2 separate regions of the Homo sapiens genome follow, and region 2 is linked to region 1. Evidence: fine-mapped expression QTL. A gene starts in region 1. The other region holds a variant in brackets. All regions are shown on one strand. Distances are from middle to middle. Region 1 holds the start of GPR39 (G protein-coupled receptor 39). Region 2 overlaps GPR39 (G protein-coupled receptor 39).

Region 1 (5,000 bases):
CTTTTAACAATTAATGACACACTGGAAGCCAGGGGCTGGTCTGAGGCAAGACCCAGGTCTTTCCATCATTCTCCAAGTGCCTTCCAACTCTCTCTCATGTCTACCTCCTGTCCCTGGAACCTGCTGCCCAGTTGCCCACACCAAAACAAACAGCACCATGATTTATTCCTTTTCCTGATGCCACAGGGGAGAGGGAAGAAGGGAAATGTTTGTTATATCTATTCCTTTTTGATTCACACACGCACAATACATCCTTTTTATTGTTTCTGCTAAAAAAATATATTTTAAAACCCTTTGTTCACACACATTTCATGTGTCTCCATTAAAGCCTTGTCTCCCAGCCACTAGGTCCCTCTTCTGAAGGCTCTGGGGTCAACAGACCTGTGGGCTCTTTTTAAATAGACGAGGCCTCAACTTTAAATACTTGTATCACAACAAAAGTTTGGAAAACAAGCATAAGAATTGGGTCTGTGAGGTGATTATTCAAATCCTAGGAATCGGTGAAGCCAGATTTTCTGGATCAGATAAACAGGCCGTCCTGCCAGGTTGCTCTGGTCTGGTAAGGAACAGACCCACAGTGGCAGAAACCCAAGCCCTGGGGAGTGCTGAGAGCTCCCATGTCTTAAGATTGGGTCGAAGAGGCTCCAAGGAATAAAATAGCAGCCCGAGAGTGTGTGTCGCTCACAGCCTGCTTTCTCCAAAGGAGGAGAAAAATGGGAACAAAATCTAATTGCACAAGAAAGTCTTCCCCGGGTAAAAGAGCTAGATAAGACGGTTCCCTGTATCTCTGCAGAACTTGGTCTTTTGCAAAGGACTTTCACCTGTCCTGCATTACCTAATTTGTCCGTCATATTCTCTAGTATTATTGTCCCCATTTTACCAAAGATTTTTGTGACTTCCCAAAGGTCACAGCAGTGATGTTCTGGAATATACCCAAACCTTCTGGGTTCTGGTCTCGTGCTCTTTTCACCATAATCTACCATGAATCCCCGAAACACAGAGAAGAAACATTCAGAGACCCAGAGCAATGCCCTCATACTGCTACAAGACTCTTCCACCTTAGTAAACTTAAGTGTGCAATTCTAGGGCAAGACTTGCCCTGGAGAGGGCCACAGGCAGTGGCACGGGTCGTGGGGGAAGGTTGGGAAGCTGCTCACGTGTTGCCCCCGACTTAGGACTCACTCAGGAAGATGATGGTCTGCCTCCTGGCGGTCCTGCTCTCTTCGCTCTCGGACTTCCTCAGCTGCGGAGGCCGCGTGCCCCCGGCCAGCGAGCCCTTCTGGCTTTTCATGAGCACCTGCATCATGTTCCAGCACATGAAGGCTACGGAGAGCAGGACCACGAGGTAGACCACGAAGGCGCCGAAGATGCTGGACTGGAACACGGTCCAGCGGCTGGAGAGGTTGGTACAGATGGACATATTGGAGGTCTCGGGCTGCTCGTGGTGGCGGGTGCTGGAGCGGTTGCAAGTGAGACCCCGGTGGCTGGGCACGTTCACCAGGGGGTACTCAGTACCCATGGCAAACAGCAAGGGCAGTGCCACCAGGGCGGAGGTGACCCAGACGAAGCCAATCAGCAGCTTCACCTGGCAAGGTCCCGACACAGCCTTGTACCTGAAGGGGTGACAGATGGCGATGTAGCGCTCAAAGCTGAGTGTCAGCACGTGCAGCAGCGTAGCGTAGCTGCAGGCCTCGAAGAGGAAAGTGTGCAGCTTGCAGGACAGGGTGTAGCTGGACGTGGTCAGGGGATTCCAGATGATGCTGTAGAACTCCATGGGCATGCCGATGAGGAACACCAAGATGTCCGAGCAAGCCAAACTCACCATGTGGTCTGTCACCTCCTTCTGCAAGTATCCTTTCTTCTGCAGCACCTGGGTGACCCGAATGGTGGCGCTGTTCCCCAGAAGGCCCATCACGAAGATGATCAGGTACACCAGAATAAGGGTGATTTTGATCCAGGTGGCCACCTCAAACTCGGGGACATGACTGTGATCAATGATTTGGGAGCAGTCACTGCCCGGGAGGCTGGGTGAAGCCATGAGAAAGAGCACCAGGCTACCAGGTCCAAAGACTTTCTCAACTTCCCTTTCTCCTCCCAGCAGCGTCCAAAATTCTTGGCTGCAAACTCACCTGCGTGGGCGCACGATTTTATCTCACTCGAGTTCTCCTCGCGAAGGTAACTTAGTATTTCAGGTGCTTTCATGGAAACTTGCTGGAGCAGCCCAACCTAGGAGAGGCCCAGGAGGCGCCTGGGTGTTGAGGTTTGGGAGTGTATGTGGCTGGGGCGAGGCGGGGAGAGGGCGGAGGAAGAACGTTCTAAACTCCTGGCTGGCTGGGAGTGAGACCGCAGCACCTGGCGCTCCGCCTCTGCCCCTCTTCGCCGAGGGCGCACTCCGCCTCGCAGCACTCCTCTTCCTTTCCAGCTGCCGGCACTTGAGAGCCCCGGTCCACATTCCCAGAGCACCCTCTCCCGAGCTGCGGGAGGCGGGGTGGTCAGCGATTAATCATTAACCACAGCGGATTGTGCTCAGCGGCCCGGCTGCAGACCCAGCCCAGCGGCGGGGTTTGACTCAGCACATAGGCACGGTCCCTGAAATCAGATCGTGGCTCTCGAGCTACGAGCGACCCACCCCCGCCCCACCCTCCGTCACCCAGGCGGCAGCCGCAGAGGCAGCTGCGGCGCTCCAACCCGACAAGCGTCCCAAGGAGGTGCAGCCCCGGGGAAGCTGGCGACCCTCCCGAGCTGGGAGAAAGACAAACTTCCTCTCGCCCGCACTGCCCCCACGTCCACCGCTGCCCTGGGGGCCCCCTTCGAAGGCGAGGTCACGGCCCGTTTGGTGGTGGCTTGACCGGGGCGTCCCAGAGGAGCCAGCAAGCCCTCGCCTCCTCTGTGGGGTGTTTGCCAAGGACAGCTGGGCTCTGCGCTGCTTGCAGCCGCTGCTCCAGGAAGTCGGCCCCAAGCAGGCTTGCAGGATTCACTATAGAATCCCTGCCTTTCCCCAGAGCCTGCCGGTGTTCTGCGCAGGGCCCTGCCTCGCCTTCCCACGGAGGGACGCGAAGACCCCGGGGTCTCTTCTTTCAGTTTCGCTCCAAGGTGCAGCCGCTTTCCCGGCAGCGGGACGTCTTTTAATTGGGGACATGTATATGGATGAGGATGGCACTCCGCCAGCAAGCCCCAGGTGGGAAGCATGCCCTCCGGAGGGAGCTGTGCCTAGAACGTCGAAGACAGCAGGAGGAGCTGAAGGCTCTGACAAGGCCGTCATGTAAAAACAGCATTAAGGATCATGACCTTTTCCCTCGAATGGACCCATTTTCGTCTTTTAATTCCACAATCAGAGGGAATGAGCAATGAAGGGGGAGGAAGGCTGCCTTATGCGTTCTAGGATGTTTAGCACCTGCATACACACATCCATAGGGACAGCCAAATGTCTCCAGACATTGCTAAATGCCCCTTGCCAGGGAGTGGCAAAGTCAAAGTCAGAACCTCTGCCTCAAAGGAAGAACATGGATCCCCTTTATCTGTACATTCTAGGGGCCTAGCACAAGCCCTCTGTGCTGAAAACATCTCTGAATTATCCCAATCGCCACATCGATGCAATCATTTTAAAGATGAAGCAATTCTGCTGTCTGGAGGACCTATGCTTCCCCAAGGCCATAAAAGAGTGAGTGAGAGCAAGGTCTTACTCAGATGTGGAATATAAAATAAAGTTAAATACATAGAAACAAAGAGTAGAAAGGTGGTTACCAAGGCCTGGGAGGGAGAGGAAATGGGGACATGTAGGTCAAAGGACAAAATGAATAAGTCTACAGATTTATCATACAGCCACAGGACAACAGTTAATAATGTTGCAATGTAGATTGAAAATTTGCAGAGAGAGTCCATTTTAGGTGCAACACACACAAAAAGTCACTGTGGAAGATGACAGACACCTTACTTTGCTTGACTGTGGTAATCATTTCACTTTGTATATCAAAACATCATGCTGCACACCTTAAATATATATGATTTTTAAAAAATGGTTAGTGACAGACTTGGAAATTAATCCAGATCAGTCTGACCCCTGAGTTTGTACTCCTAATTCTGGGAATGCAGTAGGTGCTTAGGAAATTCATCCTGAATGGTGCACATAGAAACATGGGACTGTACTTTTTTGGGGGGGGGAGGGGACGGAGTTTTGCTCTTTTTGCCCAGGCTGGAGTGCAATGGCGCCATCTCGGCTCACTGGCAACCTCTGCCTCCCGGGTTCAAGTGATTCTCCTGCCTCAGCCTCCTGCGTAGCTGGGATTACAGGTGCGTGCCACTACACCCGGCTAATTTTTTGTATTTTTAGTAGAGACAGGGTTTCACCATGTTGGCCAGGCTGCTCTTGAACTCCTGACCTCAGGTGATCTGCCCACCTCGGCTTCCCAAAGTGCTGGGATTACAGGTGTGAGCCACTGCGCCCGGCCAGGACTGTACTTTCTGCACAGTGCACTGGAGCTATTGTCTGATGACCTCAAGGATTATTTGATTTTAATGCTGTCTAGGAGAAAAAAAAAATGCTGTATGGCCACTGGATCTTTAAAATTAGCTTCATATGTGCCTTTCATGTTTTCTCTTTCTTTGTTCTGTTAAATCACAAGCTCCAAAGCCAAGAAGTGTATCTTTTCCCTCTCTGACAGGTTGGCATAGCACCCTAAATAATGTGTTTTGTGGGCGGCCTCTCCACCCCCGATGTGTGCTACTTGACCTGCTTGTTGGCACTGGTGGAGAAACTCCTAACTCGTTTCCTCATTAGTGCACTGCATTCAGCTGAAGGACCTAGCTGACCTTTCATCTGTCCCACAACACTCACAGGAGTAGCGTAATGGGGGTAAGCATGGACTCCTGGGGCTTTTCTACTTGCAGATGAGGACTCTGAATCGACTTCTCTACGGCAGAGCCTGGTTGTTTGCTATCCCACAGGAAATTCATCCTGAATGGCACACACAGAAACACTGGACTGTACTAGGATGTACCCA
Region 2 (5,444 bases), 160 kb before region 1:
TTTAAAATAGGGAACAAGGCAAGAATGTCTTTGTCACCACTGTTACTCAACATAGTACTGATAGGTCTAGCCAGGGCAACAGACAAAAAAGGGAAATAAAAGGCATACGGATTGAAAATGAAGAAGTAAAACTGCCCCTATTTGCAGATGGCATGATAGTTTATGTAGAAAATCCCAAGGAATCTTACCAAAAAAAATCTAGAATAAGTGAGTTCAATAAGGTTACAGGATACAAGGTCAACACAAAAAAAGTACTGCATTTCTACATGATCATAATGAACATATGGAAACCAACATTAAAAGACAATGCCACTTACAGTCAGTCACTCAAAGAAAATATTTATATATAAATCCAACAAATCATATATGTCTTATACACTAAAAACTATACAACGCTGTTGAAAGAAATCAAATATCTAAATAAACAGAGACTTACATGTTCATAAATTATAAGACTCAATATAGTACAGCTGTCAATTCTCCTCAAATTGATATACAGATTTAATACAATTCCTTTCAAAATCCACATAAGAGTTGTTGTTGATATAGATAAGGTTATTCTAATATTTATATTGAAAGGCAAAGGAACTAGAATATCAAGAATAATTTTTTTTTTTCTGAGACAGGGCCCAGGCTGGAGTGCAATGGCACAATCTTGGCTCACTGCAACCTCCACCTCCAAGGCTCAAGCAATCCTCCCACCTCAGTCTCCAAAGTAGCTGGGCCTACAGGTGTGTGCCACGACACCTGGTTAATTTTTGTATTTTTTGTAGAGATGGGGTTTCACCGTGTTGCCCAGGCTGGTCTCGAACTCCTGAGCTCAAGTGATACCCCCCACCTCAGCCTCCCAAAGTGCTGGGATTACAGGTGTGAGCCACCTTGCCCAGCCCCAAAAACAGTTTTGAAAAAAAAAAATGGGAGGAATTTGTCTACCTCATTTTGAGACTTATATAGCTAAAATAATCAAGAATGTGGTATTGGTAGAGGTATAGTCATATAGATCAATAAAACAAAATAAGGAAAACAAATTCAAACAAATATGCACAACCGATTTTTGATAAGCATGCCAAACAATTAAGTGGAGAAAAGATAGCCTTTTCAACAAATGGTATTGAAGCAACTGGACATCGGAGGCCAAAAAACAACAACAAAAACCTTGGCCTAAATCTCACACCCTTATGTGAAATTAACTCAAAATGGATCACAGACTTGCATATAAAACTAAATTTCTGTAAAATTTTAGAAAAAAAATTTAAAAAATGTTCAGGACTGAGGGCTAGGCTTAGTTTTAGTTTAGTTTTCTTGTTTTGGTGACAGAATCTTGCTCTGTTGCCCAGGCTGAAGTGCAGTGGTGCAATCTTGGCTCACTGCAGCCTCCACCTCCTGGGATCAAACAATTCTCATGCCTCAGCCTCCCAAGTAGCTGGGATTACAGGTGCACACCACCATGGCTGGCTAATTTTTATATTTTTAGTAGAGATGGGGTTTTGCCATGTTGGCCAGGCTGGTCTCGAATTCCTGGGCTCAAGTGATCTGCCTGCCTCAGACTCCTCAAGTGCTGTAATTACAGGTGTGAGCCATCACACCTGGCTAGGCTTAGCCTTGATATCAAAAGCACAATCCAAAAAAGAACTGATAAACCGCACTTTGTCAAAATTTAAAACTTTTGCTCTGTGATAGACCCTGTTAAGAGGAGAAAAAGATAAGCAACCAACTGAGAGAAAATATTTTCAGACCACATATCCAACAAAGGACTAACACCTAGAATATATAAACAACTCTCAAAATTCAACAGTAAAAAAAGAAATAATTCAATTAGAAAATGGGCAAAAGACAGTCATTGTCTGTTCAGACCGCTGTTAAAAATGCCATCGGTTGGGTGGTTTATAAACAACAGAAATTTATTTCTTAAGGTTCTGGAGACTAGGAAGTCCAAGATCAAGGTGCCAAGAGATTTGGTGTCTAGTGAGGGCCCACTTCCTGGTTCACAGAGTGCCGTCTTCTGGCGGTTTCCTCACATGTTAGAAGGAGTCCTCTGGGGTCTCCTTTACAATGGCACTAATACCATTCATGAGGCTTCTACCCTCATTACCCAACCACCACTCAAAGCTCCATCTCCTTATGCCATCACCTTGGGGGTCAGGATTACATCATATCAATTTTAGGAGGACAAACATTTAGACAACAGCAGATGTGAAGAGACAGTTCACTAAAGAGGAATTGTAGATGGTAAGTAAGCACATGCAGGACATTCAATATCATTAGCCCTTAGGGAAGTGCAAATTGGAACCACAGTGCAGTATCAGTATACACGTATCAGAATGTCTAAAGCAAAAAATAGTGACAACACCAGATGCTGACAAGGCTGCAGAAAACTGTGTCCCTCATACATTGCTAGTGGGAATGCGATATGGTACAACCACTCTGGAAAACAGTTTCACAGTTGCTTTAAAAAGTAAACACATCAGGAGGCTGAGGCAGGAGGATCAATTTAACTATCAATAGCAATATTCTGGCTGTAATATTTTAGTATAGTTTTCCAAGACATTGAGAGAAACTAGGTAGAAGGTGTGAGGGATCTCTTATTTCTTATAATTGCAGATGAATTTACCTTTATCTTAAAATACAAAGTTTAAACACAAAAGAAAACACAGATGAGTATTTAAGTGACTGCACAGTGAAAGATATTTTAAGCATAAAATCAATGGATTAAATTAAAAATGGAAAGATAGATCTGACTGTAAAGTCCTTAACTTTTTTATATGTCATAAAACTACAATAAACCATACAATAGAATACCATGGCATCATAAAAAGAGTAAGAAAGCTTTTATGTACTGATATAAAATGAACTCCAAAATGTTAGAAA[AAGAAAG/G]TTGAAGATTACAAATATTATATTTGTATAAAAAGGGAATATGAAAAAAATAAATGTAGAAATTTGTAGATACAGAATATGCAGAAGAAAGTTCTGACTATATACACAAAAATTGGTAATAATGGGTGCTTTCAGGAGGAAACCTCAGTCACAAAAGGGCAAGACTGGAGAGGAAACACTTTGCTCTCCTTAGTGCCTGTTTAATCTTAAACCAAGCAAATGTATTACTATTCAAAAAATACATTAATAATATTAGAAAAATACTAAGTTGTATCTTTTACAAAAGTTTTAAATACAAATAACAAGATGTTAACAGTAACTCTAATAGAATAAATTGTAACATTTATTCATTTAGCGACAAAGTCTCACTCTGTCACCCAGACTAGAGTGCAGTGGCAAGATCTTGGCTCGCTGCAACCTCCACCTCCTTGGTTAAAGCAATTCTCGTGCCTTGGCCACCTGAGTAGCTGGGATTACAGGTACACACCATCATGTCCAGCTAATTTTTGTATTTTTAGTAGAGACAGGATTTTGTCATGTTGGCCAGGCTGCTCTCTCTTGAAATCCTGGGGTCAAGAGATCTGCCTGCCTCAGCCTCCCAAAGTGCTGGGATTACAGGCATGAGCCACCATGTCTGGCCTGTAATATACTTAACATATAAAGAGTTCCTGTGAACTATGAAGAAAAATGTGTGAAGAGCATAAAGAGAATTTTTAGAAGTTGAAATACAAATGACTAATAAACATGCAAAGTAATACTTATCCTTATGAGTAGTCAAAGATATGTGAATTAGAGAGAAGCTATTTACCTACCAAATTGGCAATAGATTTTAAAAATAATATTCAATGCTGGCAAAAATGAATAAACATTCATTCAACACTGCCTCAGAAATGTGAGGTGGAACAATTTACAATGACAAGACATTGGAAACATCCAAAATGACCAAAGAGTGAGAAATGTTTAAATACAGCATGGTATATCCTTTCCCTGAATTATACAGACATTTATGATGATTTTGAAAAATGGCATTGGTTTACAATGTTCATGATATGATAAAAATATCAGCATGTGAAGCTGAATATACAAAGTTATGTCAATTAAAAATTTATAGTGCTCTAGCTTTAATTTCTTGATTGCAGAAAAGCAATACATTCTTCAAGGAAGAGTTAAAATCTAGCGTTTAACTGACTTTTGCTGGGGCTGCAAAAATGTCACATTGAAGTTCAAGAGGCTTTGCTTATTCTGCTTGGTTTTTCTCTCAGCCCCTAAAAGTTCCCCTGATGAAGGTAATTCTTTTCTTCCTATTACCCCTATCGGTGGCAGCTGACATTCGCATTCAATTAGCTTCAGAGACTTGCCTTAACACAGCTCAGATTCTTGGGTATGGAATCCTCTCCTTGCCCATTGAACTTGTCAGTCAATCCATCAGATGGGAGGGACCCAGGGGGATGGATCTTGAAGTTCAAAGGAAAAGCAAGAAACAATTTATCATCCAGGAATTGTTCCCACTTTGGCTCCCATGTCTGTCTCAATGGAAAGTGGCAAGTGGTTCTGATTACCTTTTTGTCACTCTAACTGCTGGAGGCCCTGTCTGCCAACTTTGCTGGGAGATTGGCACTCTGTCCTTGTGCAAATGCTATGCATGAAAATGCCTGGCCCTCTCCTTGCCCCTCTTTCCACATCACTCTGAAACCTTCCTGATTGCTTTTCTTATTTGGGAATCCAAGGTGTTGGTCAACAAAATGAGAAACAAGCAGTGAATTGGGGGATCTCCAAAGCTTCCTTGGTCAGCTATTGCCACAGAGGGAAAAATAGAGGAAGGAGGGGAAAATGGAGGCTTCTAAAGGTCTTCCAAATCTTTGAAAACAGTATTTTCCAGATTTCCCAACATAGTCTGTTGGAAACTTGTGGAAACATCTGGAAATTTCAGACCTGCCTCTGAGCATCTCTGAAGGGTAAGTAAGGACAAGAGTTTCAGCATCAGCCTTACCCATGGGGCAGTAGGGGCAGCAATGATGGGACATACAGCCCATGGCCATTGGGAGCAAGGGCCACCATTTCACTTCCACAATGGGCACCCATGTGTGCCTGGTCAGCATTCTTTCTTCTGGTAATAAAACCCACATCCTCCACTTGGGGAACCCACTCTTCCTGACTCTACCTCCACAGATGGGCATGTGACCAGTCCTGGCCATAACAGTATCTCATTTCCTTGGCTGAAATGATTCAGGGTTGGATAAAATGGTCCAAGAAAGACAAACCACAATCAATTCTATTATTTCTTCCCTAGGACTATGGAGAAGAAATTCTATTATTTCTTCCCTAGGACTTAGGCAGTGTGGCTATCTGACAGAGTGTAAACTTGTTGCTACCACTTGGGGGAAAGTGCCCGAGAGAATGGTGCCTGATGGAGCATAGCGGACTCCTATGGATATCTGGGATCACCTGGATTCAGCCATATGTGAACCCCTATAAGTTTTGGTTTCATGATTCAACAAATGCCTCCTCTCTTTTAAGATCTAGTTTAGAATGAGGTTTTTTTTTTTTTTTTAATCTCTTCTAACCCTATG

Evidence for each region. PIP is the estimated chance that this variant, and not a neighbour inherited with it, causes the effect. A credible set is the group of variants that fine-mapping cannot tell apart.
Region 2: its variant is the best candidate, but not a certain one, in a credible set for the expression of GPR39 in subcutaneous fat (FUSION, PIP 0.62).

What each region holds. Positions count from the first base shown.
Region 1 is chr2:132,414,081-132,419,080 of GRCh38, reverse strand. GPR39 (G protein-coupled receptor 39) reads right to left here and starts at 2,276. Exons shown (of 2, transcript NM_001508.3): 1 at 1,183-2,276. The coding sequence starts at 2,038. It overlaps LOC124905948, which reads left to right and starts at 2,037. Exons shown (of 4, transcript XM_047446885.1): 1 at 2,037-2,175; 2 at 2,545-3,661; 3 at 4,662-4,852. The coding sequence starts at 2,037. The coding sequence ends at 3,266. RefSeq lists a silencer at 2,351-2,645 and an enhancer at 2,351-2,645.
Region 2 is chr2:132,572,519-132,577,962 of GRCh38, reverse strand. All of the region lies in intron 1 of GPR39 (G protein-coupled receptor 39), which reads right to left. Among named protein-coding and RNA genes, the nearest start is that of LYPD1, 95 kb to the left of the region's middle. The variant AAGAAAG/G (reference allele first, on the strand shown) is at 2,869.